Linked DNA regions of Homo sapiens. The protein of the gene in region 1 interacts with the protein of each later gene in a pairwise test. Each region holds a gene or a part of one and is shown in the gene's direction. Other genes may lie near its edges. The genes, in order: EHHADH, FUNDC1, TRIM5 and C1orf50.

What was found.
Region 2: the proteins of EHHADH (region 1) and FUNDC1 interact in binary tests that used the Homo sapiens proteins (3 or more experiments, as listed by UniProt).
Region 3: the proteins of EHHADH (region 1) and TRIM5 interact in binary tests that used the Homo sapiens proteins (3 or more experiments, as listed by UniProt).
Region 4: the proteins of EHHADH (region 1) and C1orf50 interact in binary tests that used the Homo sapiens proteins (3 or more experiments, as listed by UniProt).

Annotation. Positions count from the first base shown.
Region 1 is NC_000003.12:185,243,530-185,251,240, reverse strand, and holds part of EHHADH (peroxisomal bifunctional enzyme), read left to right. Parts: intron 1-2,723; coding exon 2,724-2,827; intron 2,828-7,711. UniProt on the Homo sapiens protein: Peroxisomal trifunctional enzyme possessing 2-enoyl-CoA hydratase, 3-hydroxyacyl-CoA dehydrogenase, and delta 3, delta 2-enoyl-CoA isomerase activities. Catalyzes two of the four reactions of the long chain fatty acids peroxisomal beta-oxidation pathway.
Region 2 is NC_000023.11:44,532,640-44,540,350, reverse strand, and holds part of FUNDC1 (FUN14 domain-containing protein 1), read left to right. Parts: intron 1-1,808; coding exon 1,809-1,884; intron 1,885-7,711. UniProt on the Homo sapiens protein: Integral mitochondrial outer-membrane protein that mediates the formation of mitochondria-associated endoplasmic reticulum membranes (MAMs).
Region 3 is NC_000011.10:5,674,527-5,682,237, reverse strand, and holds part of TRIM5 (tripartite motif-containing protein 5), read left to right. Parts: intron 1-1,999; 5' UTR 2,000-2,060; coding exon 2,061-2,477; intron 2,478-3,068; coding exon 3,069-3,164; intron 3,165-3,803; coding exon 3,804-4,034; intron 4,035-7,711.
Region 4 is NC_000001.11:42,769,538-42,777,248, forward strand, and holds part of C1orf50 (uncharacterized protein C1orf50), read left to right. Parts: intron 1-4,025; coding exon 4,026-4,112; intron 4,113-5,199; coding exon 5,200-5,331; intron 5,332-5,671; coding exon 5,672-5,857; 3' UTR 5,858-7,711.

The DNA of each region.
Region 1 (7,711 bases):
TTTAAAAAAAAAAACTGTCTAAAAAAAAAAGGAAAGACCTTCTATAGTCAAAGAAGCTGAAGAGTTTTGGTCAGTAGTCATGAAATGCTGTCTCTACTCCAGACTCTATTTCTTCATGCCTGACAGTATTAACAGGAGAAAATAATTTCATAACTTCTGCGGCCTTTACATTGCTATGACTCTCTCTGTCAGCTTGAATCTAGTAAAGTGCGTATCTGTTATAGCTATTTTCATTTTTTTCCTGTTTTTGATATTTGCAAAATTATGAACATAAAAAAGGAAGATAGGTTGAAATGGGAAAAGCTGGTTTCTTCTCCTCAGTGGCACTGATTGAGCTAATTTTGGCTAGTTTTGTAAGCATTGTTTATTCAGAAGGAAATGTGTGCCTTTTGGACTTTTTGATGTTATATAATGGTTCTGAATTTGCTTTTCATGGTCAGATTTGGCTTCTAATTAACCAGCTGAAGCCAAGAGGTTTTGTCTGATTTCATCTAGGTTAAGAGGTGAAAAGTAATTAGGTGTAAGGGAATCATTATAAATAAGGGCAAGTATCCTTTTTATTTCTTGGGGTTTTAACTAATAGTTGTTGGTCTTAACAATATGGCCTTTACAGAAGTTTGTTGTTGTTTGTTTTGTTTTAAAATTTATTTTTAACCCTGTGTACTAAAGAACAGAGATTTTACTCAGAATACTTGGAATTCCAAGGCAAAACTGATTGGAATCTGGTTCTGTGGTTTTTCCTTTTAAGCAGTTCCTCACCACTTGCCCTAGATTCTCTTATTGCTTGGTACTTATTAATCCCCTCCTTCTTCACAAATTTTCTCTCTTGGTCTTTGTGACTTTGAGCTCACTTGCTGAATCACTCTGCTGAGCTTGTCCCACTTCTTAAATGAAGATATATCCAGAGGATCTGCCCTCAGCTCTCTTTTCCTTTGGTAGACTCATTCAGTCTTGGTTTTAGCTATCTCTTCTGCAGATGACTTCCTCATATATTAAAACTTGGCAAAATCTGCTACATGCCCTATCTTTCCACTATCTTGCCTTTATATCTTATCTTAGTTAAGATTACGCTTGGCTGTCACTGACAGAATAGTGAAGATAATAGTGAATTAGACAATAAAAAGCTAATTTCTCTCACAGCAGTGCCCTGGAATGATACAGCTGCTCCACAATCAACAGGGGCCTCAATTATTTTCTCTGTCTATCTCTTGCTCTACCATCCTCAATACATAGCTTCTACCTCCTGATCCAAGGTGGCTGCTCCTGATCTAACCATCACTGGTGCCAGGAATAGGGAGGAAAGAAAAAGGGAAAAGCATACCCAAATCTTTAAGAACTCTTCCCCAAAGTTGCATATACCAAATATGCTTCCATCCCATTGGCTAGAACTTAGTTCCTTGTGCAGACCTTACTGTAAAGCAGGCTGGAAAATATAGTCTTTATTTTGGGCAACCATATTTTTGTGTTAGTCCATTTTCACACTGCTATAAAGACATATCCGAGACTGGGTAATTTATAAAGGAAGGAGGCTTAATTGATCACAGTTCCACATGGCTGGGGAAGCCTGGGGAAACTTACAATCATGGTGGAAGGCAAAGGAGAAGCAAGTACCTTCTTCACAAGGTGGCAGGAGAGAGGCATGAGTGCAGGGGAAACTGCAACTTATAAACCACTAGATCTCCTGAGAATTCCCTCACAGAACAGCAGCAGGGGGAAACCACTGGCATGATCCAATCAACTCCCGCTAGGTCCCTCCCTGACGTGGGGATCACAGTTTGAAATGAAGTTTTGGTGGGGATAAAGAGCCAAACCAGGCTGGGCGCGGTGGCTCACACCTGTAATCCCAGCACTTTGGGAGGCCGAGGTGGGTGGATCACGAGCTCAAGAGATCGAGAACATCCTGGTTAACACGGTGAAACCCCGTCTCTACTAAAAATACAAAAAATTAGCCGGACGTGGTGGCGGGCGCCTGTAGTCCCAGCTACTCAGGAGGCTGAGTCAGGAGAATGGCGTGAACCCGGGAGGCAGAGCTTGCAGTGAGCCCAGATCGCGCCACTGCACTCCAGCCTGGGTGACAGAGCAAGACTCCATTTCAAAAAAAAAAGAGCCAAACCATATCACATATATTCAAGTAAAAACCAAGTGTTTTAATACTATGAAGACGATGGAGAGGAATGGATATTTGAGGTAACTCACAGCCCCCGCCACAGCTCCTAGACTGTTTCTCATTTAATTTTCTTATATTTTAACAATATGAAAAACTGAAAGTAATTTCACCCTTCTCTGAACTTCAACATCACTTTTTCTTTGTACCTTTATTACAGCACTCAGATATCTTAGTGTGCCTTACATGATAAATTATGTACAAGTATTGGATAACTCCTTGTACAATATATAGAAGACATGTAATAATATTTTTAAATTGGTTGGTGTCAATTTTAAGCGGTCAAAGTGAAAGCACAGTGCAGGAAAATTACATTTTTAAAAAGTGGATTAATTTAATCTGGTCAGTGCTTAATTAATCATAGGCATATATATTATTTGTAGAAGAAATTTAATAGTCATAGTAGACATATTATTTGTTGGAAGCTTTATTGAGAAGTATCTACAGTTTTTATCCATTATGTGTGTGTTTAATTTTTCATTTTTAGGAAAGGAAAACACTCTGAATGGTAGGAATTTAATTCTGACTGATTTACTTCATGTATTTTGTTTTCTTTTAGTACGACTTTACTCCGTGACATAAAAGAAGGACTACAGAAAGCTGTAATAGACCATACAATAAAAGCCATTGTGATTTGTGGAGCAGAGGGCAAATTTTCTGCAGGTAACTCAAGTCTAACCCTCTCCCACCATCTCTGGAATCCAGCCACAGACTGAGACCAATACTGCATTAGCTGTGCTTGTTGGTAATAACTTAGTGTAGGTAATGGATATGGCAGACTTGAGTGAGAATGAGTAACACTGTGGAGAAAGGGACAGGAATTACAAGAGAGACCCAGAGAAGGGCTTAGTCTCTTTTATTGTGGATTGGGCTTTTAGAGTATATTTAGTTCCAGACTTGATGGCTGTTATACACCTGCTGATATATACCTGCATTGCATGTATCTCCACCATATGTGGGCTTGGGCAAATCTCTTTAACTTCCTGAACCTCAATTTCTCTATCTATAAAGTGGGAACAATAATATCTATTTTAAGGGGTTTTTGTGACATTAAGCGAGATAACATATCTGAAAGCCTCTACTACAGTACCTACACAAAGAAGATGGTCAATAAATGTTATTGTTTAATTCACACAGAGTCTTATAATAGAATTCATTTTTCTTCCGATAGTCACCCATCTCAGTGACCATGGCACTGCTTTATTGGGTTATTGTGTGAAGATGCAAAATTATTGACAAAATATGGCAAAAGTATGCTGAAATGGTGATTTATTCAATGGCATATATGGCGTCTTTTCCTTAATATTCATACATTATACCCTTTGACAAAAGTCACATGGATATGGGGGCCTATTCAACCTTACTGTAGCCAGAGAAATTTAATATGTGTTAATGGTAGTCTGAAAAGACACAGATGTTAGAATCATGGCAATAAATAAATATAAAAATGTGAATCATTATAATATTACCATTTATCTTGCCTGTTATATGCCAGTACCATGTAGGTTATTTATTAAATAATAATAATAAAAATAATAGTATTTTTAAACATGTTATATGTTAATTCTCAGTTAGTCCTACAATCCTCATTTACAGGTAAGAAGAGATTTTGAGCCTGGGAGAGATTAATATAATGTCCCAAACCTTAACCAGTTATTAAATGGCTTACTCACTGTTTGGAAATTTAAGGTTTGTCACCCAAGATGATGACGATGATGCATGGGAAGAGTGCTCAGAATGATAAAGAACTTGATATTTCTTTGTAAGAAAGAAGGTAGATGAGAGAATGTAATTAGAGTTTGGAGGCAGAAAAAATTATTCTTCTAAAAAAGTATTAGGGATTATGAAACTTGACTTAATACATTTACATAGAACAATGCACCCCAAAATGGGAGAATATACATTCTTCTGAAATACATCTGGAACATTTACAAAAATTGACCAGATACTGAATTATAAAATCTTATCTAAATAAATTTCATTAAGAATACATTATCTGACAACAATGCAATTAAGCTAGAAATCAATAACAAAAATATAACTAGTAATTCTCATATGTTTGGAAGTTAATTTCCAATATCCTCTGAGTAAAAACAGAAATAATGGAATTTAGAAAAAATTTGGAACTGAATGGCAATGAAAACATAATATAAAACTTGAGGGATGCAGCTAAAGTAAAACTTATCAGAAAATTTATAGCTTTAAAAATATATATTAGAAAAGAAAAATGGCTGAAATATAATGAGTTAAGTATTTATGTAAAGGAACTGACAAACTAACCGTAAAATACACCCTAATCAAGTAGAAGAAAGGAAATAATAAAGAGGAGAAATTAATGAAATAGAAAACATTTGAATCAAGAGGAACAACAATGTTAGTTTTTTGAGACTAATACAATTGACAAACTCTGGAGAGATTGAAGGAGAAGAGAAGGCACCAAGCAATGCATATAAAGAATGATGAAAGGGATATCATTGCAGATACTGTAGCCTTTAAGAAAGATAATGGCCCTTTGGCTGATGCAAGAGCCTAGTGCGGTGGTGGGAGAGGTATCAGCAGGAGCAGCGCTGCCACGGGGCCTGGGGGCTGACCTGTCTGACTTCCCATCCATGCGGAGCCCACTGGAATCGCATCCATATCTGGAGATGAGATGATTTTTGATCCTACTGTGAGCAAGAAGAAAAGAAGAAGAAGAAGCCTTTTATGTTAGATGAGGAAGGGGATACTCAAACAGGAAACGCAGCCCTCAGAAACAAAAGTCTGGAGCCAGAGCCAACTGAGGACAAAGATTTGGAAGCTGACAATGAGGACAGTAGGAAAAACGATGCTTCTGATGATCTAGATGACTTGAACTTCTTTAATCAAAAGAAAAAGAAAAAAAAACAAAAAAGATATTTGATATTGATGAAGCTGAAGAAGTTGTAAAGGATCTTAAGATTGAAAGTGATGTTCAAGAACCAGCTGAACCAGAGGATGACCTTGACATTATGCTTGGAATAAAAAGAAGAAAAAGAAGAATGTCAAGTTCCCAGATGAGGATGAACTACTAGAGAAAGATGAAGCTCTAGAAGATGAAGATAGCAAAAAAGATGATGGTATCTCATTCAGTAATCAGACAGGCCCTGCTTGGGCAGGCTCAGAAGGAGACTACACATAAGAGGAGCTGCTGAATTGTGTGTTCAACATCATGAGGGAAAAGAATCCAGATATGGTTGCTGGGGAGAAAAAGAAATTCGTTATGCAACCTCCACAGGTCGTCTGAGTAGGAACCAAGAAAACTTCTTCTGTCAACTTTACAGATATCTGTAAACTATTATATTGTCAGCACACTTGCATTTTTGTTGGTTGAATTGGGTACAAGTGGTTCTATAGATGGTAATAACCAACTTGTAAAGGAAGATTCCAACAAAAACAGATAGAAAATGTCTTAAGATTTATCAAGGAGTATGTCACTTGTCACACATGCTGATCACTGGACACAATCCTGCAGAAGGACATGCAACTCTTATTTCCTACAGTGTGAAACTTGTCATTCTAGATGTTCTGTTGCCAGTATCAAAACTGGCTTCCAGACTGTCATGGGCAAGCGAGCACAGCCCTGTGCCAAAGCTAACTAATTTGCTAATCACTGATTTTTCAAAGCGTGTTGTGGATATGTGGCTAAACCAGTTTGCCATCAGAGTGGATATACCATTGTATTAAAAGCAAGATAAAAAAGCTGCCAAGTTCTTTGGCTAGTGGCTGGTTGGTGTGAAATCCTTGCAAGATGCTGATGCTCAAGCTGTTGACATATGTATAGACTACTTTAACAACTGTCAGAGAAACATGATATGGGGTAAAGAGGTGCTTTTTTAAAATCGTTCATAGACTTCTGTAAAATACAAGATAAATTAAAGTTATTGTAACAGTGAAAAAAGAAAGATAATGAAAATATTATGAACATGTAAAAAAAATAGCTTCTCAAAATTAACTCAAGAAGAAATAGAAAACCCAAATAGTTCTGTAATCATTAAAGAAATTCAATCAGTAATCAGAAATCTCACCAAGTAAATACTTGACCCTGAAGACTCCACTGGCAAGGTCTACTGTAAAGTCAAGGAAAATATTCCAATTTTACATAAACATTTCAGAGAATCAAAAAAGTGGGGCCACTTTCTCTATTAGTTTCTTAGAGCACCATAACAAATTGCCACAAACCAAGTGGCTTAAAACAACAGAAATCTATTCTCTCATTGCTCTGGAGGATAGAAGTTTGTAATCAAGATATCAGCAGGGTCATTCTTCTTCTGTTTTCTTTAGGGAAGAATCCTTCCTTGCCTCTTCTAGCTTCTTATGGTTTCTAGCAATCCTTGGCCTATGGATGCATCACTCCAGTCTCACTTTAATCACATGGCTTTCTTTCCTCCATGTCTAAATTTTCCTGATCTTCTATAGGCCCACCCTAACTCAGCATGACCTCATCTTAATTTGATAACATCTGCGAAGACCTTCTTTCCAAATGTCACACTCACAGCTTCTGGGTAAACACTATTCAACTCAGTACACTTCCCAACTCATTTTTTGAGGCAGCATACCCTTGATACTAACACCTGACAAGGACAGTATGGAAAAGAAAAATTACAGGCTAATTTCATTTATAAATGTAGATATAAAAATCGTAGTGTAAATTGAGACAACAAAGCAACTAGGTAACAATATTATGACGGAAACAAACCCTCATATATCAATATTAACCCTGAACATAAATGGCCTAAATCCTCCACTTAAACATATAGACAGGCAAATTGGATTAAAAAACAAAACCTGATCGTTTTCTGCCCACAAGTGACACCCTTTGGTAAAAACACCCACAAACTCAATGGAGTGGAAAAAGATACACTGTGCAAACACAAAACAAAAATGAGCAGTAGTAGCTATATTTACATCAGATAAAGCAGATTTTAAATCAACAACAGTAAAAAGACAAAGAATGTATTATATAATAATAAAGGGTTCAATACAAGGAGAAGATATAGCTGTCTTAAATATATATGCATCCCAAAATGGACAACTCAGATTTATAAAACAAATACTACTCAACCTAATAAAAGAGATAGACAGCTATACAATAATAAGGGAGGACTTCAAAACCCCGCTGACAGCACTAGACAGATGATTAAGGCAGAAAATCAACAAAGAAACTATGGACTTAAACTAGACTTTAGACCAAATGGACCTAATAGACACACTTATAGAACATTCTATGCAATAACCGCAAAATACACATTTTTCTATTTGTGCATGGGACATTCTGTGCATGGAACGTTCTCCAAAATAAATCATATGCTTGGCCATAAATCAAATCTCAACAAATTCAAAAAAATCTAAATCATATCAAGTATCGTTTCATATTATAGTGGAATAAAAGTAGAAATCAGTAGCAAGAGGAACTCTCAAAACTCTACAAATACATGGGAACTAAACAACTTGCTCCTGAATGTTCATTAGGTAAATGAGGAAATCAAGGCAGAAATTTTTTTAAAATATAGAAAGATCTTAAAGTCACAA
Region 2 (7,711 bases), on another chromosome or scaffold:
ATACAGGCGATTTGTTGCAATGACTATATTCAGTGTAGTAAATTTTTGCAATTTTCTTAGGATGTAAAACTGATGTGATATTATGGTGTATATTAAGGAGGAACAGTTAATAGGCACTAACCTAACAAGTTAGCAATTTAGACCAATTCAAGACATGTATAGGAGGCTGAGGAGATTTTATTTTGCTGTAGGTAGCTGTAGGCTTTTGATCATGACAAAAAATTAAAACTATTAGGATGGGTCCTTGCTAGGAGAGATGGGAGGTGTTGAGACCAGTTAGAGGGCCCTTAAAGTGTTCTGGAAGCAAGGTAATGATGACCTTGAGAGTGGAAAGGAGAAGACAGTCAAATAATGTTTTGGAGATAAAATATATAGAACTGTGGAGGCCAGGTGCGGTGGCTTACACTGGTAATCCCAGCACTTTGGGAGGCCGAGGCGGGTGGATCACCAGAGGTCAGGAGTTCAAGACTAGCCTGGCCAACATTGTGAAACCCCGTCTCTACTAAAAATACAACAATTAGCTGGGTGTGGTGGCGGGCATCTGTAATCCCAGCTATTCAGGAGGCTGAGGCAGGAGAATTGCTTGAACCCGGGAGGCGGAGGTTGCAGTGGGCTGAGATGGCACCAGTGCATTCCAACCTGGGTGACAGAGCGAGCTCCATCTAAAAAATAAATTAATTAATTAAATTAAATAACAGAAATTTATTCTCTCACAGTTCTGGAGGCTAGAAGTCTGAAATCAGGATGTCAACAGGGTTTGTTCCTTCTTGGAGGCTCAGAGGGAGAAATCTGTTTTATGTTTCTCTGCTAGCTTCTGGTGGTTGCCAGCAATCCTTGTCATTCCTTGGCTTGTAGACGTATTACTCCAGTCTCTGCCTCTGTTGTCCTCACATGTCGTCTTCCCTCTGTGTGCGTCCTTATCGGATTAAAGGCCCACCCTGTCCAGTATGATCTCATCTGAACTTATTACATCTGCAGTGACTCTGTTTTCAAATAAGGTCACATTTAGAGGTTTTGGGAAGGATATGAATTTTGAGGGGGACACCATTCAACCCAGTGCAGAAGGCTAGAGTTAGAAATATAGGATTCATTTGCACAGTGTGGATCTGGAATGCTGAAGGGAATGTGAGCTCACTGAAGGAGCGAATTAATGACAAAAGAAGTATGAGCTGACACAGGGTAGATGAGACACAAAAAACATTTAATATAAAAATAGGTAGATATAGATAAGGAGGCCTTTAGAAATGTGGGCTGAAGTATAGTTATTGAGTGGAACAACAGCTGGACCTGAAAGGGTAGGAATGGTAGGAAAGCTTTAGATAGGTAGAGCTAGGAAGAAACCCCTAGAAGCAGGGAGATTAATAGCTTGAGCAAAGGTGATGACCTATTTGGAGGTTAATGGGGTTGGAGCCGAAGGTGGGGGTCAACCAGGTGTATGGACCATCTTGACTGTATTAAGCAAAACATCACTTTTATTACGGGAGGTTTCAGCTTATACAAATGTAGGAGGAATATAATGAACCCCTGAGTACTTGTCGTTATTTTAGTAGCTGCTCTTTTTTTTCTATAAATTCTCCTCCTCTTCTCTCCGTCCCTTATTTTGAAGCAAATTTCAGACATTTTAGATTGTGCATTTTTGACTAGCCTGTATAACTGAGGGGTTTCTGAGAAGGTTTCTGAGCAGGTAAGGGATGTGATCAAAAGAAATGCAAAGACATAAGATTTTATTAGGAAAGCAATGAAAAGTAGAAGAGGGAGAGGGTTTAGTACATAATTGATTGTTTTCATCTTTTGTTATTTGATTAAAGGTGTGCAGGATTTCTGTTCCAGAAAGTTGGAAAACTTGCAGCAACTGCAGTAGGTGGTGGCTTTCTTCTTCTTCAGGTATGTCAGAGCTTTAAGCACTTGCCTTTGCTTTCATAGAAGGTGGAATTTTTCTTTTAGGCATCAGTTTATGGAAGAGCTACAATGAGTTTTGGAAGCTGACTTTTGTCTTGAAAGATAACAATTTAAATACTTCTGAGTTATTAAGCATAGTTTGATCCCAGCTATTAAAAAGACAGCCATTACCGAGCGCATTGGCTCACGCCTGTAATCCCAGCACTTTGGGAGGCAGAGGCAGGCAGATCCCTTGAGGTCAGATGTTCAAGACCAGCCTGGCCAACATGGTGAAATCCCGTCTCTACTGAAAATACAAAAATTAGCTGCCATGGTGGTGCACGCCTGTAGTAGTCCCAGCTACTTGGGAGGCTGAGACAGGAGAATTGCTTGAACCCAGGAAGCGGAGGTTGCAGTGAGCCGAGATCGTGCCATTGCACTCCCGCCTGGGCAACAAGAGCAAAACTCTGTCTCCAAACAAAACAAAACAAAACAAAAATCCATAATCTTATATCTGAGGCAGATAGATTTGAAGTTTTAGTTTTGTTCATATTCTTGTAAGTATAAGATCTAAAAATGCTTTGCCATTAGAGGATGTTTATCAGGGCATCATCTGGCATTCATGTCTGTTTGGCATGTATTTTTTCAAAAATATCATTCCTTGAAGATCAAATATAGTAAATCCAAAAATTGAAAATCTCTACGAATGAATGTGAGCAGCACTTTTAAAGATACAGAGAACTGTCACTTGTACTAGATTTTAAAAATGATTGATGTTCATAGCCACCAGAATCTGAATTCAGCACCTAAGCCATCGATCATGTAATAACTAGTGTAGTTGTAGTACAAGGGGACTAGATTTGTATGTATGAAGCACAGATTTTGAGTTGTTCACTAAACAGCCTTTTAAAAATATATATGTTTTCTTTCTTTTGGTGACATTATTACGAATAATTGCTTATTACTTGTGGTAAGAGGTAAAAAAAATGATTAATACCTAAATTTAGTTCTTTGGATGAATATGCCAGCATTAGTACAGATGATAATTTTACTTAAGCTGATTTTGACTTGGTTTTATATGGAATCAAGAGCATATTTTATTCCATAGCTATTTTGAAGACTCAGTTGTCATTTCTGTTAGTGTAAAAGGGTACTGGACTGAAGCAGAGTTTCCTAAAATGTTCACAGAATGGAGAGAAGTGTATATTTTAATCCACTCTGCATGTCAGTTTTTCAGAAGTCCATTTCAGTTCACTCAATATGCACCATTCAAATCCACATTTTGTCATTGCCACCTCCCACTTTTCCGCATTTAGTACACGTAGTCTTTGAAGTTTTTAAGGCAGAGCAACATAGGACCTATCTGCATCAAACCAGTTTTTCCCACAAATACGACTAACCTTGAAAACTCAGTAGAAGGAAAGTGAAAGGGGAAATAAAGTAACAAATGGCTTTTAGGCTAATTGCCTAATATTCTTTAGGCCCACTTTCATATTTTTATGACCTTTCTTATATTTAAAGGTAAATATTAGTTTATTTAGAACTTAAAGCTTTTCTAGTAACAATATCAAGTGTTTTCCAATAGATATTTATTACACTGCCATCTTAAAGTACACAGTCTCTTCGTTTTAATTTTTTGGAGTTATACATCCTTATAATTCAAAGGGCCAAGTACTTGTGCAAGGCTTGTTACAGATTAGAGTAATCCTCCACCTCTCTCACTACCCCCATTTTTCCATCCCTTGAGACATCCAGTTTGCACTCTTAACTGATTCTTAAGGTAGTAATCTCTTTTTCCCTAAACAAGTTAATTGGACATTTCTTGATCTTTCAGTTTTAGGTGTGAACTATTGGCTTCCCATTATGGAATGGGAAAATTTAGCTGTCATTTATTGACCTGTTTTGTTTTCCCTATACTTCCCCAAATCTCACATACCTGAATGCTTTCTTCCCTCTCCCTCAATCGTCTGAGTGTAGTTACTTCCCTTTTTTCATAATTGTGTTAGATCATTCATTATATGGAGTTCACTGAGATTGATTACTTGGAGTTCACTGAACTTCTTGAGCCTGTGAATTTATGTCTTTAATCATGTTTGGGAAGGTTTTGGCCATTATTTCTACTAGGAAGTTTGGGATTTTTTTTTTTTTTTTTTCGAGACAGAGTCTCGCTCTGTCGCCCAGGCTAGAGTGCAGTGGCGCAATCTTGGCTCACTGCAACTTCCACCTCCCGGATTCAAGTGATTTTCCTGCCTCAGCCTCCCAAGTAGCTGGGATTATAGACTACAGCTGCCTGCCACAGCACCCCGCTAATTTTTGTATTTTTAGTAGAGATGGGGTTTCACCATCTTGGCCAGGCTGGTCTAGAACTCTTGACCTATTGATCCACCCGCCTCGGCCTCCCAAAGTGCTGGGATTACAGGATTACAGGCGTGAGCCACCACGGGCGGCCGGGATTATTTCTTTTCTTCTTCTTTTTTTTTTTTTTTAGACAAGAGTTTTGCTCATGTTGCCTAGGTTGGAGTGCAATGGCACAATCTCGGCTCACTGCAACCTCCGCCTCCTGGGTTCAAGCGATTCTCTTTCCTCAGCCTCCGAAGTAGCTGGGATTACAGGCACCTGCCACCATGCCTGGCTAATTTTTGTATTTTTAGTAGAGATGGGGTTTCACCATGTTGGCCAGGCTGGTCTCGAACTCCTGACCTCAGGCGATCCACCCGCCTTGGCCTCCCAAAGTGCTGGGATTACAGGCGTGAGCCACCGCGCCCAGCCAGGATTCTTTCTTTTTTTTTTTTTTTTTTTTTTTGAGACAGAGTCTTGCTCTGTCACCCAGGCTGGAGTGCAGTGGTGCGATCTCAGCTCACTGCAAGCTCCGCCTCCCAGGGTCACGCCACTCTCCTGCCTCGGCCTCTCAAGTAGCTGGGACAACAGGCGCCCGCCACCAAGCCCGGCTAACTTTTTTGTATTTTTTTGGTAGAGACAGGGTTTTGCTCTGTTAGCCAGGATGATCTCGATCTCCTGACCTCATGATCTGCCCGCCTCGGCCTCCCAAAGTTCTGGGATTACAGGTGTGAGCCACCGCACCTGGCCCAGTATTATTTCTTTAGACAACTACTAGTTGTGTAAATCACCTTTCATTGTCGTATGTATCAAATAGTTCATCAGTTTAACCGTCTGGGCAAACTTGGTCCCAGAGTCATCTGTCCTGTTTGCTTTCTAGGCCTGGTATACGGCTCTCACCCTGGGATCTCTCTTCAATACCTTCTGGATATTCCCTTTTTGTTTTGGGTTGTTTCTTGTATGTTATGTCTTTTGTTTGTTTGTTTGTTTTTTGAGACAGTCTTGCTCTGTTGCCCAGGCTAGAGTGCAGTGGTACAATCTCACTCACTACAAACTCTGCCTCCTGGGCTCAAGGGATCCTCCTGCCTCAGCCTCCCAAGTAGCTGGGATTACAGGCGTGTGCCACATGCCCGCTAATTTTTGTATTTTTGTATAATAGGGAGGTCTTGCTATGTTGCCCAGGCTGGTCTCGAACTCCTGGGCTCAAGCATTCCACCCGCCTTGGCCTCCCAAAGTGTTGGGATTACAGGTGTAAGCCACTGCACCTGGCCTATCCTATGTCTTGATGTATTCTCTTGTTTTGGTGGACACATCCTCCAATAGCTTTCGTAGAAAATGAGAATGGGAACTATAGTTTTTGAGACTTTGCATGTCTGAAAATTTCTTCATTTTATCCTCACATTTGTTTGATAATTTATTAATAGCTGTGTTTAGGTATTGCTCCATTGTCTTCTGACTTCCAGTGTTGCTGTTAAAAGTTTAAAGTAATTCTAATTTCTGAACCTTTACATGTGTGGGTTTTTTTTTTTCCTTTCAGTTAATGCTTATAGGATTTTCTTTTGTCCTCAGTATTCTGATTTTTCCCAGTGATGTGCCTTACTGTGGGCCTATTTTCATCCACTGTGCTGGAAACTCAAGGGGCCCTTTCAGTTTGGGGAAATTTTCTTTATATTTATTTAGTTAATGATATCCTGCTCTTTAATTTTCCCATCTTTTTTTCTGTAGTTCCAGTTATATGGATCTCCTGGACCAGTTGTCTAATTTTTCTTTCTTTATTTATTTTACAGTTTTAGACTTATTTTTAATTTTTTTTAAATAGAGATGAGGTCTTGCTATGTTGCCCAGGCTGGTCTCAAGCAATCCTCCTGCCTTGGCCTCCCAAAATGTTGGGATTACAGGTGTGAGCCACTGACTGCTTGGCCTAATAATTTTTTTTTTTTCTTTCTTAGATTTGGTAGAACACTAATAATCTTTTCAATTTTCCACTTCTATCTTTTTGGTCTATTTTCTGGGAGATTTCTTCAACTTCAACAAGTTTTTTTTGTTGTTTTTGTTTTTTGTTTTTTTTTTGAGACAGAGTCTCACTCTGTTCACCTGGGCTGGAGTGCAGTGGTGCGATCTTGGCTCACTGCAGCCTTGACCTCCCGGGCTCAGGTGATTTCTTCACGCCAGCCTCCCAAGTAGCTGGGACTACAGGCATGCACCACCATGCCTGGCTAATTTTTTGTATTTTTAGTAGAGATGGAGTTTTGCTATGTTGCCCAGGCTGGTCTTGAACTCCTGAGCTCAAGCGATCCACCCACCTCGGTCTCCCAAAGTGCTGGGATTACAAATGTGAGCCACCATGCCCGGCTGTTGTTCTTTTAATGTGACTTTAGCATTCTGTTTCTTGCTTTTCCTTCATGGATGCAGTGAGCAGTATCTTTTTTAAAAATTTTTAATGGCTAATACTTGGATACTATTTTTTTGTTGTTGTTGTTTTGTTGTTTTTTTTTTTTTTTTTTTTTTGAGACGGAGTCTTGCTCTGTCACCCAGGCTGGAGTGCAGTGGCACGATCTCGGCTCACTGCAAGCTCTGCCTCCCGGGTTTGCACCATTCTCCTGCCTCAGCCTCCCGAGTAGCTGGGACTACAGGCGCCTGCCACCACACCCAGCTAATTTTTGTATTTTTAGTAGAGACAGGGTTTCATTGTGTTAGCCAGGATGGTCTCGATCTCCTGACCTCATGATCTGCCTGCCTCGGCCTCCCAAAGTGCTGGGATTGCAGGCGTGAGCCACTGCGCCTGGCCTTGGATACTGTTTTTTTAAGAGATTGGTGGGATGTATTTATTATGTGTGACTTGTCCTCCTCCAACCCATTGTTTCAACCAATGCAATGGTTAGAAGACCGTCCCTTCAATAAGACTTTTAGAAACACATCATATTACTGGAGCACTAACATTCTTGGAAACCATTTTAATTGCATGTCTATAGACCAAGAAGGCTTGTGAGAGATGGTATAGTTGAATGTCTTCTCTAATTCGAAGATAGAAGCTTCTTAGAAAGTGGCAGAGACTGAAAGTTTTCCTTAGATCACCAGATGCTAGTTGGAAGTGACTGCCTTAATAGACTGCAGGTTCAGAGTGTTGATCCAAATAGTCTGTCCTACAAGCAATTCTTAGCATCTACACAGAATGTTCATCTAGCAGTTTATTTTTTCAGCTTTACAAACAACTCTGCAGTGACTAGCCATTTATATACAGCTTTGCACACTTGTCTAAGACAAAGCAAAAATATACATATTTAGGCCAGGCATGGTGGCTCACGCCTGTAATCCCAGCACTTTGGGAGGCCGAGGCGGGCGGATCGCCTGAGGTCAGAAGTTCGAGACAAGCCTGGCCAACAAGGTGAAACCCCATCTCTACTAAAAGTACAAAATTAGCCGGGCATGGTGGTGCATGCCTGTAATCCCAGCTACTCGGGAGGCTGAGGCAGGAGGATCATTTGAACCTGGGAGG
Region 3 (7,711 bases), on another chromosome or scaffold:
GAGACAGAATTTCACCATGTTGGCCAGGCTGGTCTTGAACTCCCAGCCTCAGGTGATCCGCCTGCCTTGGCCTCCCAAAGTACTAGGATTACAAGCGTGAGCCACCACACCCGTCTGGTTAAGTTAAATATTAAAAGCTGAAGCCGGGCACGGTGGCTCACGCCTGTAATCCCAGCACTTTAGGAGGCCGAGGCAGGTGGATCACAAGGTCAGGAGTTGGAGACCAGACTGGCCAATATGGTGAAACCCCATCTGTACCAAAAATACAAAAATTAGCCGGGTGTGGTGGTGCGTGCCTGTGGTCCCAGCTGCTCGGGAGGCTGGGGCAGAGGAGTCACTGGAACCTGGGAGGCAGAGGTTGTGGTGAGCCGAGATTGTGCCATTGCACTCCAGCCTGGGCGACAGAGCAAGACTCCGTCTCAAAAAAGAAAAAAAAATATTAAAAGCTGATAGAGCCAGTGCCCTTATACAAAGGCTGGAATGTAACAGAAGCCCACTGAGAGTTTTGCCCAGGCCTTTCCTGGGCCTTGAAGCATGACAAGATAACGAAGGAATCGATTAGGACCTGTTTAGGATTAAACAAGTTTTATGGGGGTCTGAAGGAACTCCCAGGCCTCCACAAACAAGTTTATTGAGGGTCTGAAGGAACTCCGCAAACCTTAATGATTTAGCAGGAGAGACAAGATAAGGGTAATCACCCCAGCACCCGGACCCATCTAGATTAGGTAAATTTACTGAGGCACCAGAGGAAGGTCTTAAAACTCAGACCTTAGTTATAGATTTGAAGAAGTTAATCACTTATGTTTTTAGATGAATAATGCACACCTATACGTAGACGTATAGCTTAGAAGGTATATAAGCTCTGGAAAACTTTGTAATTTTGAGTTGGTCTGGAGATATTTTCTAGGCCTTCTCCCTGTACGCAGAAATAAAAATTCGCTTCTTTCCCAGTAAATCTGCATCTCGTTATTGGGCCGCAAGAAGCAGCAGCCGACCCTCCGTTTGTTCCGGGAACAGAATCATCTCATCTAATATTTTGAGACTTCTCTCTCAAGACTGATATCCACTGCCTCTGTGCTTCTAGTTTTCAAGTATCCAACATGTGTGGTCCACTGAGTATTTCTCTATCATCACCCTCTACACCATGTCTACACCTTTAGGCTCCAATAAATGTCCTTGGCAAACTTTCAGGATGAGACTCCTCAGAACCTCCCAGCTGTTGTGGATTCCTCTACTTCCACACCCCAATTGCTCTGGGTATTAATTGGATATATGCTGTTATCTCCATTTGTCATTGATTAACCAAAAGAGTAGCAAAGAGGCCAGTGAAAGAGGACCCTGAATACGAGGTCATCTCAGGTCACCATACTGAAGATAAATAATTTTTGTAAATCACTTATTATGTCTATTTATACATTTGATGAAACAGTCATTCACTCTGCTGATAATAAGAGCAATCATTGCAAACGTACAGTGCATGGTGAGATTTGTTACACTGCACATAAGGTAGTCAGAGCAGGTATTTTTGATAATATAACATGTAAGGAGAGAATTTAATAAAATCGTACTAACATCAGAGAAACATTTCATGCTGAGAGAAGAGCAAATGTGAAAGCCCTGAGGCATAAGCTGTTTGGTGATTTTAATACTGAGGATGTGTTTTGGCGTGGGAAAGAAAAGCCAGGAGAGATGATGGGTCACACAAAGATCTTGGTAGAAAAGACCTCAGTCTGTTTTCTATTCATTGAAAGTAAAGAAAAATGATAACCAATGCACAGATAAGAACAGAATTTGTCATATGACATGAACTGGCAGTAAAGTATTTAAGGTGATTATGAAAAGCCCTTATTACCAGGTAACCAAACACCTTTTCTTATTTCTCCCCTTTTTTTGTCCTTAATTATTTTCATCTTGCCCATTTTCTAATTGTGCACAATCAATATCCTTTCTATTTCTACCTTTCTTACTTGGTCCCATTTTAACCTTCCCAATCATGCAGGGATCTGTGAACAAGAGGAACCTCAGCAGCCAGGACAGGCAGGAGCAGTGGAATAGCTACTATGGCTTCTGGAATCCTGGTTAATGTAAAGGAGGAGGTGACCTGCCCCATCTGCCTGGAACTCCTGACACAACCCCTGAGCCTGGACTGCGGCCACAGCTTCTGCCAAGCATGCCTCACTGCAAACCACAAGAAGTCCATGCTAGACAAAGGAGAGAGTAGCTGCCCTGTGTGCCGGATCAGTTACCAGCCTGAGAACATACGGCCTAATCGGCATGTAGCCAACATAGTGGAGAAGCTCAGGGAGGTCAAGTTGAGCCCAGAGGGGCAGAAAGTTGATCATTGTGCACGCCATGGAGAGAAACTTCTACTCTTCTGTCAGGAGGACGGGAAGGTCATTTGCTGGCTTTGTGAGCGGTCTCAGGAGCACCGTGGTCACCACACGTTCCTCACAGAGGAGGTTGCCCGGGAGTACCAAGTAAGAGACTGGGATGGAAGGAAGAGAGGGCAGAAAATGGGACCAGATGGAAAATTTTCACTTTGCCTTTGACATTAACTGCCTTGTCATGATAGACCTGAGACCCGGGATTATTTTTTTCATGCTATGCTTAACTTCTGAGGCTTTAAGGATGGTTTTTTGCATTTCACCCAATTACAGGAGAATAATCCTAGAGTATATATTCCTGGCCGGGAGTAAATATTTTGTACCTTGGGTTAGATGGGTAGAGATTTGGTGTCCAAGAAAAGCTCTGATTACCCCTTTCAGCAGGAGAGTAACAGGAGTGGGTTGAGATGTAAGTTTTTTCCTTGCTGCAGGATTAGTTTTTTCTTCTAGGACAAAAAGAATCAGTCTACTCATGGTGAGGAGATGGGGAGGTCTATTACCTGAGATGTAGGGAGCACATTCACCAATGTAAGTTTTCTTCCAAGTCATGGATTCTCATTGCCATTCTCACAGTTTCTGCAAATTTGTTTCTTCTGAGATCAACCTGATTTATTTCATGTTTATACTCTATCTAGGTGCTGGAAAACCTCATAGCTTGACTATGGTGTGATTCCTTTCTCACAGGTGAAGCTCCAGGCAGCTCTGGAGATGCTGAGGCAGAAGCAGCAGGAAGCTGAAGAGTTAGAAGCTGACATCAGAGAAGAGAAAGCTTCCTGGAAGGCAAGAGGATGTGGTTCCCGAAGGAGTTAGCTAGAAATCTGGGCAGGACCAGGGGAAGGAGCTTTCTTCCTCTTTATTCCCTGACATTTGATAAGTCCAGAAGTCATTTGATTAGTCCTCTTCATCCTTTCCCTGATGGGGTGTGGTGGCTGAGGAGTGAATATGTCACAGTGAACACAGTAGGGAGCTCTTTACATGAAGGATCTCTCTGGTGAGGATGGCTAGTGAATCCTGCATTCTATTTTTGTGCTACTTTTTGAGTCCGTGACTCTACTTGGGGAAGACATTTGGCAATGGCTCATGATTCTGTCCTCAGTGTTCAACTTTTGGCAGGGAGTTTGAGCTTGGGCTGAGAAGTAATACAGGCAGGCATGAGTGTCCTGCATAGCTGTGTGAAAGGTAAGCTACATCCAGGTAACCCATTTTGATGCAGGATGAACCTCAATATACCCATTCAAGGTCATTGTTTTAAAATGTCATGAAGGAAAAGAAATAGGAAAAGGCAGCTTTCCTAAGACCTACTCTCCTGCTACTATGTCCCCTCCTTGTGAGAACTCCCCAAAAGAAACAGCTCCTTTTCTGGCTAACAGCCTCTGCCTGGTAGACTGAGTGCCCCTTTCTCTTCTCTTATCTCTGAAGACTCAAATACAGTATGACAAAACCAACGTCTTGGCAGATTTTGAGCAACTGAGAGACATCCTGGACTGGGAGGAGAGCAATGAGCTGCAAAACCTGGAGAAGGAGGAGGAAGACATTCTGAAAAGCCTTACGAACTCTGAAACTGAGATGGTGCAGCAGACCCAGTCCCTGAGAGAGCTCATCTCAGATCTGGAGCATCGGCTGCAGGGGTCAGTGATGGAGCTGCTTCAGGTAAAAAGTGGAAAGAAGCCTGAGCACTGAGATTAAAGAAAAGTGAAGGCTATTTCCTTCTCTGCGTTGCTGTGCTTTTTCTAATATTAACAATGTTCTCTGCAGGACCGCTTTTCTGAATCAATTGCTGAAGTTATAAGAATAATTGAATGTAGAAGTAGCAAGAGATAATCCCATTTTTATTAATTTATCCAGAGCAGTAGAAAAATTTGACGTAGTGGAGATGATCAATTAGCTCTAGTCATGTTTGATAGGTTCCTATTCTCTGTATTCTAGTGTTGAGACTTACCAGTGCAGCTTTTCATTGCTCAGCTTAGCCACTGGCAAACAAATACACGTCAAAATACAAGATGCTTTTTATTTTTTTCCTTCATGGAATTAATTGAGACTTTTTCCTTTTTTTTTAATTTTCTGAAAAGAATTAAATAACTGCTATCATTTCTTCTTTATATGCTCAATAGAATTCACTAGTAAAGGCTGGGCGCGGTGGCTCACGCCTGTAATCCCAGCACTTTGGGAGGCCCAGGAGGGCCAGTCATGAGGTCAGGAGGCCCAGGCGGGCCAGTCATGAGGTCAGGCGATTGAGACCATCCTGGCTAACACGGTGAAACCCCGTCTCTACTAAAAATACAAAAAATTCTAGATCCCTGAGGAATCGCCACACTGACTTCCACAATGGTTGAACTAGTTTACAGTCCCACCAACAGTGTAAAAGTGTTCCTATTTCTCCACATCCTCTCCAGCACCTGTTGTTTCCAGACTTTTTAATGATTGCCATTCTAACTGGTGTGAGATGGTATCTCATTGTGGTTTTGATTTGCATTTCTCTGATGGCCAGTGATGATGAGCATTTTTTCATGTGCTTTTTGGCTGCATAAATGTCTTCTTTTGAGAAGTGTCTGTTCATGTCCTTCGCCCACTTTTTGATGGGGTTGTTTGTTTTTTTCTTGTAAATTTGTTTGAGTTCATTGTAGATTCCGGATATTAGCCCTTTGTCAGATGAGTGGGTTGTGAAAATTTTCTCCCATTTTGTAGGTTGCCTGTTCACTTTGATGGTAGTTTCTTTTGCTGTGCAGAAGCTCTTTAGTTTAATTAGATCCCATTTGTCAATTTTGTCTTTTGTTGCCATTGCTTTTGGTGTTTTAGACATGAAGTCCTTGTCCATGCCTATGTCCTGAATGGTACTGCCTAGGTTTTCTTCTAGGGTTTTTGTGGTTTTAGGTCTAACGTTTAAGTCTTTAATCCATCTTGAATTGATTTTTGTATAAGGTGTAAGGAAGGGATCCAGTTTCAGCTTTCTACATATGGCTAGCCAGTTTTCCCAGCACCATTTATTAAATAGGGAATCCTTTCCCCATTGCTTGTTTTTCTCAGGTTTGTCAAAGATCAGATAGTTGTAGATATGCGTCGTTATTTCTGAGGGCTCTGTTCTGTTCCATTGATCTATATCTCTGTTTTGGTACCAGTACCATGCTGTTTTGGTTACTGTAGCCTTGTAGTATAGTTTGAAGTCAGGTAGTGTGATGCCTCCAGCTTTGTTCTTTTGGCTTAGGATTGCCTTGGTGATGCGGGCTCTTTTTTGGTTCCATATGAACTTTAAAGTAGTTTTTTCCAATTCTGTGAAGTCATTGTTAGCTTGATGGGGATGGCATTGAATCTGTAAATTACCTTGGGCAGTATGGCCATTTTCACGATATTGATTCTTCCTACCCATGAGCATGGAATGTTCTTCCATTTGTTTGTATCCTCTTTTATTTCCTTGAGTAGTGGTTTGTAGTTCTCCTTGAAGAAGTCCTTCACGTCCCTTGTAAGTTGGATTCCTAGGTATTTTATTCTCTTTGAAGCAATTGTGAATGGGAGTTCACTCATGATTTGGCTCTCTGTTTGTCTGTTGTTGGTGTATAAGAATGCTTGTGATTTTTGTACATTGATTTTGTATCCTGAGACTTTGCTGAAGTATACCATTTGACCCAGCCATCCCATTACTGGGTATATACCCAAAGGACTATAAATCATGCTGCTATAAAGACACATGCACACGTATGTTTATTGTGGCATTATTCACAATAGCAAAGACTTGGAACCAACCCAAATGTCCAACAATGATAGACTGGATTAAGAAAATGTGGCACGTATACACCATGGAATACTATGCAGCCATAAAAAATGATGAGTTCATGTCCTTTGTAGGGACATGGATGAAATTGGAAATCATCATTCTCAGTAAACTATCGCAAGAACAAAAAATCAAACACCGCATATTCTCACTCATAGGTGGGAATTGAACAATGAGATCACATGGACACAGGAAGGGGAATATCACACTCTGGGGACTATGGTGGGGTGGGGGGAGGGGGGAGGGATAGCACTGGGAGATATACCTAATGCTAGATGACGAGTTAGTGGGTGCAGCGCACCAGCATGGCACATGTATACATATGTAACTAACCTGCACAATGTGCACATGTACTCTAAAACTTAAAGTATAATAAAACAAAAACAAAAACAAAAAAAACACAACAGAAGAAAAAAAAAAAAAAAGAAATGCAAGAAAGCTAGCACCCCCAGGGGCATCCTTCAACCAATGGGGTTGGGAGTTGATGGAGAAATGCCTCAGCTCTCAGTGTTTCGGGCAGAGATTCTGGGGCATTCCCAGGAGGTTTGGTGGGATCATGATCCCATAATGCCCAGAAACAACCCCAACAGCTTACTCATACATTGGCTTCTCCTCCTCCCTGTCTTACCTCCCTGCTCCCTCATTCCTGCTTCCTGGGGTCAGGTAAATCACCTGGACCCAGGTCCTTGTCTCAGGCTCTACGTTCAGTGTTTCTCATGCTGTATTCCTCGGAACCCCAGGGCACCTTAGGATGTGTCTACCCCTCTCTCACCTGCATTTGATTTAATGCTCTGTTGTCATCATCTTGAAATGTTTAATAAATTTTGAACAAGGGGCCGCATATTTTCATTTTGCATTGTACCCCACAAATGAAAAAAAATAATACAAAAAATTAGCCAGGCGTGGTGGCGGGCACCTGTAATCCCAGCTACTTGGGAGGCTGAGGCAGGAGAATAGTGTGAACCCGGGAGGCGGAGCTTGCAGTGAGCCAAGACTGCACCACTGCACTCCAGCCTGGGCAACAGTGCGAGACTCCATCTCAAAAAAAAAAGAAAACTGCTCTTATCCCAATTTTCAAGAATACAATACATTGTTAACTATAATTGCCACATTCTGCAATAGATCTCTTGAAGATAGTCATCTTTTCATTCTGAAGTTGGTGTCCTTTTACCAATATCGGCCTCAACTCTCCCTACACCCCAGCTCCTGGAAACCCCTCTTCCACTCTCTACTTTTATGAGCTCAACTATTTTTTACATCTACATACTAAGTGATGTTATACAGTATTTGTCTTTCTGTTCCTGACTTACTTTACTTAAAGTCCTCCATGGTGTGAGATAGTCTTCTGCATATGGCTATCCAGTTGTTCCAACACAACTGAGAATGGTCCTACCACTGAGGGCAACCTCGCATTTAGATAGCTCGTAGACTGAGTCCACTGCACAGATCTAGAGCCTAGGCTGTGAGATACGGCCTGGAGGCTTATCCATAGATACCAGTCTGGAGTCTGGTGTCTTCAGACCTGCCAGGCTGGGTTTTACTAGGTTGAGCCCAGTGTTAG
Region 4 (7,711 bases), on another chromosome or scaffold:
TAAAAAGAAAAAAAAATGGTGGTGGGCTGGGTGCAGTGGCTCACGCTTGTAATCCGAGCACTTTGGGAGGCCAAGGCGGGTGGATCACGAGATCAGGAATTCAAGACCAGCCTGGCCAACATAGTGAAACCCTGTCTCTACTAAAAATACAAAAAATTAGCCGGGCATGGTGGCAGACGCCCGTAATTCCAGCTACTCATGAGGCTGAGGCCGGAGAATCACTTGAACCTGGGAGGCAGATGTTGCAGTGAGTGGAGATTGTGCCACTTCACTCCAGCCTGGGTGACAAAGTAAGACTCCGTCTCAAAAAAAAAAGTACTTTTTTAGCAAGACTGACCCAGGTATTGGTGTGTGTTCAGAAAGCTCAGGAGGCCTGGTATTAAGGCATGAATTTTGGAATCTGACCTGTGTTCAGATCCTTTGCTGTTTATTATCTGTGAAACCTTGGACAGGTTGCCTCATGTCTGTGAGTCTTAATTGCTAAAATGAGAAAGTGAGGTTATCATCTCCAGCGTCATAAAGGTGTTGTGAGAAGTAAATGAGATGAATGTAAAGGGCCTCAGAGTAGTTGAGGCCAGGGTTAGTGCTTAGTAGTTGTAGGTACTCTTCCCTTCCTTTCTTTTTTATGAGGCTCTTTTGTTTTTAAGTTGTTCGTGAAATATTTTGCATTTTTTTTGTTTGTTTCTTTTTTCCTTTTTTTGGACCTCAGACTAATCCATATTTTGCATTTTATATTAACTCTTCAAAATATAAATTCAAATTTTGTTTATGAGATTTATTGCTAACACCTTAAGAAAAGGGAGGGTTATTATAAGGCCACCCCTAATCTGGAACTACCTTAGCTCTAGAAATACCTACTCTCTCCTTGGCCATATATGGCTCCTCCTTTCTTTCTTTCTTTTTTTTTTTTTTGAGATGGAGTTTCGCTCTTGTTGCCCAGGCTGGAGTGCAATGGCGCCATCTTGGCTCACAGCAACCTCTGCCTACCGAGTTCAAGCAATTCTCCTGCCTCAGCCTCCCAAGTAGCTGGGATTATAGACATGTGCCGCCATGCCTGGCTAATTTTGTATTTTTAGTAGAGACAGGGTTTCTCCATGTTGGTCAGGCTGGTCTCAAACGCCCGACCTCAGGTGATCCATCCGCTACGGCCTCCCAAAGTGCTGGGATTACAGGTGTGAGCCACCACACCTGGGCTTTCATTCTTGGAACAAAATGCAAATTCTTTTACCATGGGCTACAAGACTGCACAATCTGGTCTCTGCTCTCTTTTTAAACCCTGTTCTACACATTGCCCATCACTAACTACTCTTCAGCTGCACTGGCCTCAAATGCCTGCAAACTTTTTTTTTTCCAGCTTTTTTCATGGTCGGTCCTCTCCTTTCATTTAGACCCAAGTCAAATGTTATATCCTTGGTGAGGCCTTCTTGTCTGAAGAAGACCGTACCCTACCCCATCCAAATGACAGTATTATTAAATTGAATTCAAATACCTCTAGGCTACATATACTTTCCAATTCCCCACCACTCCCTATTATTAAACTTCATAAAAATGAAGTAGCTTTTTTACTTAACTCATTTGTTATCTTTAACCTGCTTCTACGACATAATTGTGGTTATTTCCTTCATAACAGTGCATTGTTATGAGTACATATAATATTAGCTTTAATCATCTTTACTTTTTGGTATCTATTACTCACTGGAGCTGTGCTTTAGGTAGCCACTAGCAACATTATGTCTGTTAAGCACTTGTGTTACGTTGTTAGTGTGGCTGAGGAACCGAATTTTGTATTTTATTTGATTTTAATTAATTTGAATTTAAAAAACCTGATAATTACTTCAATTATTGGAACTCAAGTATATTGGAACAATTTGAGTATGTGAATCAACTTTTTCACATATAAATTTTATTAAGTTTAAATACAGATGAAGTATTTCTGATGAAAATTTAGCATCCAAATTGAGATGTGCTGTGAGTACAAAATAAACACTATATTTTGAAGGCTTAATATCAAATGCAAAATATGGATTAGACTGAGAAGGACCAAAAAAAGAAACAAAAACAAACAAAAAATGCAAAATATTTCATTAACAACTTACAAATAGTGATTACATGTTAAAATGAAAATGTTTTTGATATATTAGGTTAAGTAAAATGTATTAGCTGAGCACGGTGGCTCATGCCTGTAATCCCAGTACTTTGGGAGGCTGAGGCAGGCGTATCACTTGAGGCCAGGAGTTCGAGGCCAGCCTGGCAAACATGGCAAAACCCCATCTCTACTAAAAATACAAAAATTAGCGGGGCATGGTGACGCATGCCTGTGGTCCTAGCTACTCAGGAGGCTGAGGTGCGAGATTTGCTTGAACCCGGGAGGCGGAGGTTGCAGTGAGCCTCTGCACCACTGCATTCCAGCCTCCGTGACAGAGCGAGACTCTGCCTCAAAAAAAAAAAAAAAAAGTATTGTTAGAATTAATTTACTATTAACGTGGCTACCAGAAAATTTAAAATTTTATATGCAACTTGCCTCATATTTCTGTTGAACGGTATTAGACTTGACTTGCGATCTTGACAAAGGCAGGGACTTCTCTTTCCTGTTTGCCAGTACACCCAGTGCCTAGTGTGGTGTCTGACACATAGTAGCTGCCTAATATACATCTGTGGGACAGATAAATGACTCAGTTTACTTGTGTGGTTTCTGTTCACTCATAACACTGGTTTATACCTGAACTTTGCCTTAAGACTCCTCAACTAACCAGCAAATTCTCTTTAATATTTCTTAGTTCAGGTTCTAGTTTAATCTCCTCATTTCTTTACCTTAATTGTGTATAATCAGCTTTTCTTAAAAGTAAGGTGGAAGTTTTTGACAGAATTCTATTGCCTGAGTGGTAATCCTTCCCAGCACATGAATTTGTCACATTAGTCTCTCCTAGCTTTGAGAATTTGATCTATTTTAAGAAATGTCCTGGCTGGGCTCAGTGGCTCACACCTGTCATCTTAGACCTTTGGGAGGCCGAGGTGGGCGGATCACCTGAGGTCAGAAGTTCGAGACCAGCCTGGACAACATGGTGAAACCCTGCCTCTACTAAAAATACAAAAATTAGCTGGGCATGGTGGCGGGCACCTGTAATCCCAGCTACTCAGGAGGCTGACATTAGAGAATTACTTGACTCCAGGAGGCAGAAGTTGCAGTGAGCCAAGATTGCGCCATTGCACTGCAGCCTGGACAATAAGAACGAAAACTGTCTGAAAAAAAAAAAATGTCCATTGCCTTCAGTTGCACTTTGTGGCACGTGACAGGTAGTCTTGTGTGTACATTATAACTCTGTTTCAGGTCCACATCATAATGCAGTCTTTTAAAATACATTTTAAGTAATAATTAGAAATGCACATATAAGTTAACATTTAAGTAGTTGTGATGTAAATAACTGAGGAAATGGTCAGATTAACGCATACTTTCTCAGTTCAGGGGGTGTGGGGGTCACACAGAAAAACCCGAATACTTTCTATGTGTATCTAGATTTCTACCTTAGCAGATGATAAGGGCCAGATCACAAGTGTCTTTTAATTATTTAAAATCCATCCCTGATTTCACAAGTGTTTAAACATGAGAAAATGGAGACCTGAGAAATGTGTGGTGTTTGTTAGGTAAAGAGCAGGAGGAAAAATGGATTGGTTGGAGGAGAGGATATATTCAGTATATTTGGTAGCAGGAGAGAGAAAGAGAGAAGGCATGCTGGAGAACCAAAGAAGTTCAGTGTAACTGCAGTTCATAGCGAAGGGGTGGAAAGCTATGGGAAATAGAAGAGAGCACTTAACTCTGTGGCGTGGAGTCATGTCAGGGTGGCCTTCTCATGACAGTGCTATCTGAGTGGGGCCTCGGATGAGTGGGAGGCTATGGGGCAGTGGCAAGAATGGGAAAAATATTTTAGGCAGAAGCAAAATATTAACATAACCCTGGGATCAAGATAAGAACATCATAGAAGTCTTTTCCTCTTTCAACCCACAGTTTAGTTTTTTCTCACCTGTAGGCTGATGAATTCATCCGAGCAAATGCCACCAACAAGCTGACAGTCATAGCTGAGCAAATCCAACATTTGCAAGAACAAGCCAGGAAGGTAAGGAATGACTGTTAGACAGGCTTTCATTTTCTTTATTTAGTTCTCAGGATTGGCTGAACTTGTTTATAATCGTTGTGACTTTTTATGTCTTTAATACCTCCTAGAAATGTAGAGGTGTTGAGTAAAATAGAAGGAATAAGCTTAAGAGGTTAAGTATAAGTTTTTGTTTGTCTGTTTGTTTGTTTTTGAGACAGAGGTTTGCTCTTGTTGCCCAGGCTGGAGTGCAGTGGCATGGTCTCAGCTCACTGCAGCCTCTGCCTCCCGGGTTCAAGCGATTCTCCTGTCTCAGCCTCCCAAGTAGCTGGGATTACAGGTGCCCGCCACCACACCCTGCTAACTTTTGTATTTTTAGTAGAGATGGGGTTTTGCCATGTTGGCCAGGCCTGTCTTGAACTCCTGACCTCAGGTGATCTGCCTGCCTCAGCCTCCCTTGTTTTGTTTTTTCCAGGAGAAGGTTTCATGAGGTAAAGCATTTAACAGGGGATTATGTTTTCATTTATAAAAGAAATGTACTTAGCACAGAAAAATAGGAAAGAAGCTTAAAAATTACCCAGGGTCATTAATGCTCAACATTTTGAAATATCTTTTTTTTTGAGATAGGGTATCACTGTATCACACAGGCTGGACTGCAGTGGTGTAGTCTCAGCTCACTGCAACCTCTGCCCCCTGGGCTCAAGTGATCCTCTAGCCTCAGCCTCCCAAGTAGTTGGGAGTACAGGCATATGCCACCACACCTGGCTAATTTTTTGTATTTTTAGTAGAGACAGGGTTTTGCCATGTTGCCCAAGCTGGTCTCCTGAACTCAAGTGATCCACCTGCCATGGCCTTCCAAAGTGCTAGGATTACAGGCATGAATCACTGTGCCTGGCTTGAAATATAATTTTTCTAAAGGCATTTTTACAGCATAGCAGCATAGTCTAATTTTTGTTTCTTCAGAATAATCTGGATCTCAGAAGTGATTCATTGCTATGGGGGAGCAAGATCCTAAGCACTGAATGGTTTCCAAATTTTAATTGGGATGATCACCAAATGTGGGTGCCTGTTATCTCCAATACCTAATTTGTTACATATCTGTGATTCATAGGTACTGGAAGATGCTCACAGAGATGCCAACCTGCACCATGTAGCTTGTAATATAGTGAAAAAACCTGGCAACATTTACTATCTCTATAAACGGGAGAGTGGTCAGCAGTATTTTTCCATCATTTCTCCAAAGGTAAGAACATACATTGTTTGCCCAAAAATCTACTCCAGCCTCTGAGAAATTCTTGGTATATGTGTGAAAATGTAGACATGTGGATTGGTATATGGTTTCTTAGAAAATTGGGGGTGATGTGAGCCCAGACATGACTCTAAAAAATATACCTGTGCTTAAATTATTTCACTCATTTTCTTCATTAAGGGAGGGATCTGATGTGTAAGGTAACTGCGTTCCAAAGGTTGTTCTGACTAGTATGAAGTGAAAAGCCAAAAAAGAGATTGTGGCATGATTAGGAAATGAGCTCAGTTTGTTTACAACCCACGCTGATGGGAACTGCCTCCTTTGCCTTCTCTAGGAATGGGGGACAAGTTGTCCACATGACTTCCTTGGTGCCTACAAACTACAGCATGACTTGTCCTGGACTCCGTATGAGGACATTGAGAAGCAAGATGCTAAAATCAGCATGATGGACACGTTGCTAAGCCAGTCAGTGGCCCTGCCTCCGTGCACTGAACCCAACTTCCAGGGACTGACTCACTGAGAGTGGGCTTTGACAAACAGCTCTCACAGGACCTGGCTGTCAACCTCCTTGTTGCCCCCACTGTTGCCTTGAGAATTGAAGACATGTAGGTGACTCACAAACTTCTTGGAAAGAGACCCTGTGTGAATGTAAATGCTGTCATTATGACTTTTAATTGGGATGGGAATAATCATTGAGACAGAGTCACTGTCTTTCGGGATCCTCTTTGGACCACAGATACCCAAGTCAGTCAGTTTCAGAGTATTGGCCAGTGTACTTTCCTTCTTCCTCTCCATCACTTCTTCCCTTAAGTTAAAGTGTTAGAGAAGACCTTCTTCCCATAAAAAGGTTGGTGGATCGTTTTCCAGAGAGAACTGTTTTCAGTCTTTTATATATATATATATATATATATAACTGGTAGTATTTAACATTGGGGTTGAGGCTGTCTCACAGTTGGTGCAACTCCAGTTTAAAATTCATCTGGGAACGAGAATGTTGAGTAATGGAGGGTGATTTAAAAAACAACAACAACAACAAAAAAAAAAACACTTGGCTTGGCTGGACCAGAGAGTGTGTGATTCTGGGATTTCTGTGCTGTTGATGAGGTTTGTCTTGCCCCTTTTGCTCTCTCTGCCTTGCTAGAGTGACAGAATCTGAGGCAGCAAAGGCCAGGTTTGGGGAGAGTCAACTTTGAAACTCACAAATTTTAGACTTGGAAGAGACATTGGATGCTGCCACTAATCATTATAGAGTCCACTGTGTAGTCTCCCAAGTTGGAAATCCCAGGCTCAGCCACCTGCAGCAGAACAAACCCATTTAAATGGCTACTTAACACTGTGGAAGAGAGTAAGGCAGTAGAGTGAGAAGCAAGAAAAACAGCCAAATTGTTGACTGTGAGTTAACTCAGATTGAAATCCATTTTGACCAGAATTATTCAAGAACTTAACAGGGTTTTGGCAAAATTACTGTAGTTCTTATTCTGACTAGGCTCTTGTAGGACTCTACCTTCTTTCCTATCTGTTTGGTGGAATTAGCTAAGTTTATGGATTATTTCGCATGGCTATAATCTATTGCAATATGCTGTAAAAGGAGGGAGAGATGTGTACTTGAACTGACAATTGGCCAAATTTCTCTCTGGGAATGATGTTCCTGATGCTGATCTGTTTGGTAATACCCTCCCCGGGCCGCCCCCCGATTCATGGTCTTTCCTCATAAACTGCATTTCTTGTGAGCTGTAAGAGGTCTACCTAAGGCCTAGCACAGGATGGGGCTAGAATCTAACAAACTCACTCCGATGATACTTGGTTGCTCGGTTCACATGGGAATGCTCTTTGGACTCAGCTGCAGAGGTCTTTTGCTCAGGTGCTGCAGAGCCGGATGGAAGAGACATTAGTGGTAGAGTAGTGGATTCTGACTACAGAAAGTTTCCCAGGTTTTCAGAAGGTTCTGACCTGCATGATGATGACACATTTTGAATAGGTGCTTTATTAGTTACAGATAAACAAATTACTGCAAACTTAATGGTTTAAAGCAACACCTATTTATTTCAGAGCTTACAGGTTAGGAGTTCAGGCACCATTTCATTGAGTCCTCTGCTTCACAGTTTCTCTGAAACCCTGGAAGGCTGAAATCAAGTTATTGGTCAGGGCTGTTCTTATCTGAAGGCCTGAGTGGGGAAGGATCTGCTTCCAAGCTCACTTAAATTGTTAGCAGAATTTCTTTTCTTTCCTTTCTTTTTTTTTGAGACAGAGTCTCGCTGTATTGCCAGGCCTGAGTACAGTGGCTCAATCTCAGCTTACCGCAACCTCCGCCTCCTGGTTCAAGTGATTCTCCTGCCTCAGCCTCCTCAGTAGCTGAGATTACAGGCGCACGCCA